Regions from separate parts of the Homo sapiens genome. Here regions 2 and 3 are each linked to region 1. Evidence: fine-mapped expression QTL. A gene starts in region 1. Each other region holds a variant in brackets. All regions are shown on one strand. Distances are from middle to middle.

The links. PIP is the estimated chance that this variant, and not a neighbour inherited with it, causes the effect. A credible set is the group of variants that fine-mapping cannot tell apart.
Region 2: its variant is the best candidate, but not a certain one, in a credible set for the expression of C2CD5 in lymphoblastoid cells (GENCORD, PIP 0.64).
Region 3: its variant is the best candidate, but not a certain one, in a credible set for the expression of C2CD5 in lymphoblastoid cells (GEUVADIS, PIP 0.52).

The regions. Positions count from the first base shown.
Region 1 is chr12:22,543,036-22,545,798 of GRCh38, forward strand. C2CD5 (C2 calcium dependent domain containing 5) reads right to left here and starts at 1,507. Exons shown (of 27, transcript NM_001286176.2): 1 at 1,285-1,507; 2 at 1,026-1,144. The coding sequence starts at 1,115. RefSeq lists enhancers at 1-267, 1,408-1,637 and a silencer at 1,148-1,267.
Region 2 is chr12:22,589,614-22,592,376 of GRCh38, forward strand. It overlaps C2CD5-AS1 (C2CD5 antisense RNA 1), which reads left to right. Exons shown (of 3, transcript XR_001749044.2): 3 at 1,462-1,784. ETNK1-DT (ETNK1 divergent transcript) reads right to left here. Exons shown (of 4, transcript NR_135030.1): 3 at 1,194-1,311. Among named protein-coding and RNA genes, the nearest start is that of C2CD5-AS1, 13 kb to the left of the region's middle. The variant C/CA (reference allele first, on the strand shown) is at 1,316.
Region 3 is chr12:22,508,667-22,511,429 of GRCh38, forward strand. The region is part of intron 9 of C2CD5 (C2 calcium dependent domain containing 5); the gene reads right to left. Among named protein-coding and RNA genes, the nearest start is that of C2CD5, 34 kb to the right of the region's middle. The variant G/A (reference allele first, on the strand shown) is at 1,592.

The DNA.
Region 1 (2,763 bases):
ATTAAGAATCACCATGACAATGGGCAGGGGAGGCAGTGAACTGTAATTATTCGGTTAGAGAACATTTAGGAAACATCAGGAATATTGAGATGAAATCGAGCTATATATTATGATATATCTATCCATCAATTCTAAGCACTAATAGCCCAAATGATTGCTGCTCTAATGCTCTGGCTCATCACGCCAATTTTTATTACAATCTTTACTTGGCTTCTTTCAGACTCTGGGTTATTACCTTCCGGCCGTAGGCCTTTACTAATTTGCATGACTTTTAAACTAATCATTAGACTTAAAAAGCAATTTTGCAATTTAAGTCCATGGCAATTAAATGACTTCCTACCTCAAGGCGCTAAATTACCCTGAAACACCTCATCAGACCTACCAGCCTATACAAGAGCAGGAAGTGTTGCAGTTGTGTTTTAGAACGTGCATGGCAGATTCACAAAATGTTAGGCATGAGAGTGGATTTCCTCGCACTGTGGGACTCCAAGTGCCCATAAAGGGCTTCATGCACCTTCTTAAACATGATGTCCAGCACTCTGGCCACCCCTTCCAAGGGTGTGTGTGTGCCTGTGTGTGTGTGTGTTTCAGTGGCTGCGGGGCCACACCTTGGGATCTCCTGAGTGGCAGGTGGCCTGTTAATGAGTCCTGACATCAGAGTCATTCCGGCATTTGTGTGTGTGTGTGTGTATGTGTGTGAGTGTGTCGGTGGCTGCGCGGCCACGCCTTGGGATCTCCTGAGTGGCAGGTGGCCTGTTAATGAGTCCTGACATCAGGGTCACCCCCGCATGCACAACAGTACAAGCCTCCCCGCGCAGCGGACTGTGCCGCGGACGCCTGCAAGCCGTGCACCCATCGCACACACTGAGGTCTCGGCGGTCATCCCTCGTGGGAGAGCTGGACAACCACGGCCGAAGGGAGGGCAGTCGAGGGGGGAATAGGCTGAGGGGCTGGGGGCGAGGTGGGTAGATCCTTCACAGGGCTTGGCGCTCCCTGTGTTTTGAGGGGCAGGACCCTGCACCAACCTCCACGAAGGCATCAGTCAGGTCACTAGCACGGTCCATCACTGGCAAATGGCGCCCGGCCACGATTTTCACCTTCAGCTTCCCTGGCATGGTCTCGGTTTCGGCCTCTTCTTGGGCTCCTGCAGAAACAAACAAACGAGTCTGCGCCGAGCGCGGGGCCGGCGGGAGAGGGGCGGAGGCGCGCGGGGTAACTGACAGCGAAGGAGCGCGCGGGGGCGCGCGCGGGCGCCCGGCAGTCGCGCCACGGGTCGCCACTCACTGTCGCAGGAGGAAGGGTGCTGTCCCGCGCGGGTGCTGAGACCTCATTCCGGAGAGGCGGCGGGAGGAAGGGCTTTGATGGGTTCTTCCGTCCCGGCCCCACAAGGCTGGGACGAAAAGCAAAACCCAGTCAGCATCCCGTTGAGCCTCTGCCGCCCCTGCTTGTCTCTCCTCCCCCGCTCTCAAAAATGGCGGCTCTCGGGGCGCGGAAGAAAGCATCGATCGTTCGGCGCTCTGCCCACTTGGCGGGGCGAAACTAAACTCGCCGAGGAAAGATAAGGGGGCGGGGCTGACGTTGAGAAAGCTGGAGGGCAGGGAAATGGGCCGAGTCCTGCATCATCCACCGAGTGGGGGCTGTGGATAGGTGCGGCGCTGCTTCCCTGGAGGGAAACGCTCCATCTTGCGGGCCGAAGCGCGAGTGCTGCTCTGTGACAGCCTCCGGCCGCGGCCTTCCCAGCTGCTACCGCCGCTTTTCGGATGGGCTGTGATAGATGGAGTAGCAGCGAAGACTGCTAGAAGAGCGTTTTCAGTCGGCCTTTAGTGATTCGTAAAACCAAATTAGCTGGTTTCTACTTGGAAGGGGTACAGGTGCGTGTGGTGGTTCCAGTTTTCTGTGAAATAGAGTTAGATGGCCAGGCACAGTGGCTCACGTCTGTAATCCCAGCACTTTGGGTGGCCGAGGCGGGCGGATCACCTGAGGTCAGGAGTTCAAGACCAGCCTGGACAACATGGCGAAACCCCGTCTCTACTAAAAATACAAAAATTAGCTGGGCGTCGTGGCGAGCGCCTCTAATTCCAGCTACTCAGGAGGCTGAGGCAGGAAAATCGCTTGAACCTGCGAGGCGGAGGTTGCAGTGAGCCGAGATCACTCCTCTGTCTCCAAAAAAAGAAAAAAAAGAAAGAAAGAAATAGAGATACCAGGCACATCTCGAATAGTGAAATAAATATTTAGTGAAATATTTTATTCAGTCATAGGCACTTGTGTTGTGCACTGGGTCACAGATATTACTGTGGGCGGGGTGGGGGAGGTCACCTTGAAATCCAAAGTCTCCTCTTGAAAAAAAGTTTCTGCTGGTAGGTGTGGTGGCTCAGATTTGTAATCCCAGCACTGTGGGAGGCTGAGGTGGGAGGATCGATTGAGTCCAGGAGTTCGAGACCAGCCTCATGGAGACGAGGCAACACAGTAAGACCCCTTCTTTACAAGAAATGCAAAAATTAGCTGGGCCGGTGGCTCGTCTGTGGTCTCAGCTACCTAGGAAGCTGAGGTGGGAGAATCTGGGAGAATTGCTTGAGCCCAGGAGTTTGAGGCTGCAGTGAGCTGCCATCTCACCACTGCACCCCAACCTGGGCAACAGAGCAAAACTCTGTCTCTTAAAAAAAATTTTTTTTTAATTAAATGTCCTGCACTCTTAGATCATCTCAGTGTTCTTATTAAGCATCCACAAGCCTAAAGATAAGACCTACAGTAGTAGCAGAAGTT
Region 2 (2,763 bases), 47 kb after region 1:
GAACCTGGGAGGCAGAGGTTGCAGTGAGCCAAGATCGCCTCACTGCACTCCAGCCTGGTGACAGAGTGAGACTCCGTCTCAAAAAAAAAAAAAAAAAAGGTAAGGGTAAACAAAGTCAGGATTTAGGATGAGGAAGTCTGGCCATGGAGCTGACAGTATGACAGTATGGGATTTGAATGCCTGTTGCTTTATTCACTTCTACTAACTCCAAATTATTATTTTTTTAAGTGCAAACAACACTATTTTACACATAGGTAATTTTCCTAAGAAGTAGAAGTATGGCATACAGAGAATAATTTAGAGCTAAATTTCCATGAAATGGAAGGTTAGGGAGGGGAAAATCCAATGTGAGGTGACAATTGTGTTTTGTTCTTGGGAAGGATAAAATTTTTTTTCTTTTGTAGAGACAAGGTCTCCTATGTTGTACAGGCTGGTCTTGAACTCCTGGGCTCAAGCAATCTACCCTCCTCAGCCTCCTGAAGTGCTAGGATTACAGGCATGAACCCCCATGCTCGGCCTCAACTAACTCTTTATGTGGAAAAAAGTACAAATATATTTATTATTTAACTCTTTACGTGGAAAAAAGTATATTTATTATTCTACTTGCTTCTATATTATTTTATTATTTGAGTGCCAAGGGTTGGGGTTACCTGTTCAGATAACACCTTTCTCTATATTAATCTCAGGAGACATGCTGCCTGTCCCTACCACTGGCTCTTGGATGAATAAAGCCTACATTCTCTAGCTCAGTAGTATTCTCTAATTTCACATCTCAGAGAAAGAGGGAGTAGTGTATCCCAGAGAAAATATTTAGGATTTTTTTCCCTTCCCAGAAGGCCCTGGGTTCCTCATGCAAATTGATCTACCTTTGTGCCAGTAGTCAGCCTCACATTCCCAGAATCACAGTGAGTGACTGACTCAATGGAGTCATAGAAGATATTTGCTATACCCTCATTACAGGGCAAAGAACCCTGCTTGTCTTACATTTGCATAAAGAATTGGGCCACTCTAGTGACTCTTCAAGAAATAAATAATAGGCCGGGCGCAGTGGCTCATGCCTGTAATCCCAACACTTTGGAAGGCCAAGGTGGGAGGATTGCTGGAGCTTGGGAGTTTGAGACCATCCTGGGCAACATAATGAGACCCTGTCTCTACAAAAAAATTAAAAAATTAGTCGGCGTGGTGGTGCGAACCTGTGGTCTCAGCTACTCAGGAGGCTGAGGTGGGATGATCACTTGAACCCAGGAAGTTGTGGCTGCAGTGGGCCATGATTGCACCACTGCAGTCCAGCTTGGGCGATAGATTGAGACACTGC[C/CA]AAAAAAAAAAAAAAAAAAAAAAGGAAAAATAATAATAAGCTTCTTTTAATCAATATTTTAAAATGTCTTACCCTGCTATTCATATATGTCCATGATACTGCCTTGGCAATCAAAACATGTTAGTTCTTTTCCCTTCTCTCTTTAGTTACCACCATTCCTGGTATTGGTCCCAGTTCTTCTAAGAATATTTTTGATGCAAGAGCTGTTTTATCTTGAATCCTACATAGCTTATTTTCCATTTTTCCATTCAAATAAAACAACAAGAGAACAATAGAGTGAAGAAAAAGGATGTTTAAGCCTAAATCCAAGACTGAGGTACAAGACCAAGAAAAGTGGGGCAGAAGATGGAAAAGAACAAGTGAAGAATCTTGGAAACAATTCAAAGGCACGTTGGATTCTTTGCTTGTAATAAGAAGTGCAAGTTGGTGTTACTTCTTAAGATCTAATGTTAAAATTTCTTGAATCTGATCTTTATCGTATGCATATTTTTTCATCCTTGGATAGTTAGACTTTTTTTATATGTCAAGAACTCATCTATATTTTTTCATCTATATTTATTCTACATAAATCGATAAATCAAGATGTAATATAAAAATAATGTTGTTGATAGAAAACTTTAGTTTTAGAAACTTTATTTTTAAAAACAGCTCAAAATTGCCTTCATCATATTACTGATTTAAATATTACAAAAAATATTAAACATTTACAAAAGTATTACAGAAAGACTAGCATAATGAAACCTCATACATGTACCACCCAGATTTGAAAATTATTGGAATTTTGTCATATGGGCTTTAGCTACCCTTATTTTCTTTCTTTTTGTTGCTAAAGTATTTTAAAGCCCCTCCAGGACCTCATGTGACTTTATCCTACATACTTGTAATTCTACTGATTTTTAATTAAATTATTGATTAAGTAGTTAACAGAAAACAGGATATTACAGGAAGCATCTAGTGGGGTGCAGAGTCTAGCAATTAATCTTTTCTCATTTAATCAAAGACAGCAGCAGGGCTCTAGTAAAATCAATTATGTTTAGAAATGGAAATTTTTAAAAATTCAAAAACAAGGAAGCATTTTAAGTATTCTTACAGCCTTTACTTCTGTTTTCCTTCCTCTTGACATATTCCCCATTAACAACTGGCTACTTCTTATCTCTTTTGCCCCTCAGTGTAACCAGGATTTATGTAAATCATACGTCTTAACTCAGCAAGAAATTGGCAGGGTCCTAAGACATAGTTCCAAGTAAATTTTATTTTTATAGTAAAATCCTGGCCCTTCTGTCTGGGAGACCTTTCTAGTCCTTTACATGTCAGCACTACCACTTATGCTAATATTATAATTGTGTATTTATCAGTATTTTAACATAATTTTTCTTAGTTTTACCTGAAAAAGGAGACTAAGAAATAAAATGCCCAATGCTGATGAAGGTATATATTGTGGATATTTT
Region 3 (2,763 bases), 34 kb before region 1:
CAAGTACATTTGAACTTTGTAAATGTGAGTTTTAAATGAGAAACGTATAGGTAAGCTTATATTATTAATAATGTAGTTAGGTCTTTCAGATTTTTTTTTCAGTGTTAGGATCACTTAAATTTTAATATTTCCTCAAAATATCTGAGGCATGTGGTGGTCTCACAGAATAAAAAATCACTTTATATGTAATCTTTATACTTAAATCTTTTTTTTTTTTTTTTGAGACGGAGTCTCGCTCTGTCGCCCAGGCCAGACTGCGGACTGCAGTGGCGCAATCTCGGCTCACTGCAAGCTCCGCTTCCCGGGTTCACGCCATTCTCCTGCCTCAGCCTCCCGAGTAGCTGGGACTACAGGCGCCCGCCACCGCGCCCGGCTAATTTTTTGTATTTTTTTAGTAGAGACGGGGTTTCACCTTGTTAGCCAGGATGGTCTCGATCTCCTGACCTCATGATCCACCCGCCTCGGCCTCCCAAAGTGCTGGGATTACAGGCGTGAGCCACCGCGCCCAGCCTTAAATCTTTTAAATATCTAGACAAGAGATACTGAAAATAACATTTTTGTAAGCTAAATGGAAGATAGTACTTCCTTTTTCCTTCTAAAGAAATAGGTAAATTATGTATTAGAAAATATTTTCATATAAGATTTTACATAAGTATGAATAAATGAACCTAAATGACTTCTCAATTCAGGGTTCTTTACCCTTCTCCCCAAAGTTCTTTGTTTGGGATAAAGAAACGAGGGCAAGCATTGTACTAGAGCTGGTCAGAAAGAAACACACAGGGCGATGGCTGCCCATTGAGGCCACGACCCACTCTCCACCTCACATGTCCCCAGTTCACCTAATCGGCACACCAATTCACTCTAAAACACAAAATTTAACCTATAATAAATAAAAATGTCATTGTTATTTAACCAAAACTCCGTCTTCATACAATTCTCTCATGAGAAGAGCTACTGCTGAAATCTATAGCAGATTGTTAAGTACCTATCATCACCACCATAACTAGCAACTACTGTCAAGTACTTCTATGTGCCAGGCCCTGTAGCTTGTGCTGTATAACCTTTCCCATATGAGGGAAGTACTATTATCTCCATTTTTTATATGAAAAACTGAAGTCAAAAGGGCCTTTTATTCCTAGATTCTTTATAAGCAACAAACTTTATCATCTGGTTTCACTGTCATTTAGAGTTAAGGATTTGATTTTATTACACCTGATGAATTTATAGATTTTTCTTCTGTTTAAAAGAATAGCTTCTGCCGGGCACAGTGGCTCACGCCTGTAATCCCAGCACTTTGGGAGGCTGAGGTAGGTGGATCACCTGAGGTTAGGAGTTCAAGACCAGCCTGGTCAACATACTGAAACCCCGTCTCTACTAAAAATACAAAAATTAGCCAGTTGTAGTGGCGGACGCCTGTAATCCCAGCTACTCAGGAGGCTGAGGCAGGAGAATTGCTTGAACCCTGGAGGCGGAGGTTGCAGTGAGCTGAGATCATGCCATTGCCCTCCACCCTGGGCAAGAAGAACAGAACTTCATCTCAATGAAAAAAAAAAAGAGAATAGCTTCCTTAAGATCAGCACAAGCACATCCC[G/A]CTTTCAATGTCTAGATGTGAATTTCAGGAACTGCAGAAGAAATTTTCTCCAGAAGTCTTCATATTTAAAGTAGCTTTCCCTGTGGTACCTAGATAAAGTTACATGCTGATGCTTTGACATAAGCCAAGGGCAGGCAGCATAAAAATATTTAATAGTGTGTGCTCAAAGACAGGTTAGTTGAAAAATCATCAGAGCACAATGGGAGTATTCTTTTAAAAAGAGATTTAAATAGGATTTTTCTTAGGAGCTATTTAAATAGTTTATTCTTTAAATCAAATACTCTTTTTATTATTGCAAAAGACTAAACTTTCTAGATATAAAATCCATAACAGATTTCTGCCATGGTTTATTGTACAATTTTACTCCCACTTCTAAAAAGATCAAAATTCTTCAAGAGTTTACCTTATATCAATGTTTCCCAAAATGTGTTCCTCACTAACAGGTATTTTAAAAGGAAAGTTCTATGGTAAAATGTACTTGCGAAATACTAGGTTAAACTAAGTTCACTAGGTTTCTTGACTGAAGGAACTAAAAAAGTACTTCCATATTTTCTCACAGGTAAAATAAAAGTCTTATTGAAAAACAAATCTGGCTGAGCACAGTGGCTCATGCCTCTAACCCCAGCACTCTAAAAGGCTGAGATGGGAGGATCACTTGAGCCCAGGAGTTCGAAACCAGCCTGGGCATCATAGAGAGAGGCTCTCTCCTAATTAATTAATTAAATATCTATTTACTTTACATCAAAAAATTCATAGGTGGAACTTAAATCTAAATAAAACTTTTATCTCTATTTCTCATCTCCCGAAAACCTAGCAATGCTTCTGTGGAGTAAAGAATAACACTTTCAATTTTGACAACTACTACTTGAATAATCCGTAAAAGAGATTGGGCAAATAAAGTTTCTCTTTCCTCAAGAAAAAAAAAAAAAAAAGGCCATATAATTTATTAAGGGTGGTTTACCAAAGGGATAGAAACGAATATTAAAGAAAGGAATATAAAACATCATATAAGTAGATCATGTCAGTGACATAATCTAGTGTTCAGATTAGCAGAATTAAGTCATATCTGAACACATATGGAGAGAATTCTTCATACTTCTTGCTTTTCCCAAAACAGAAACCATACTAATGGCAGTCGCAAGTGAATAGGAAAGCCAAAGATGATAATGCTT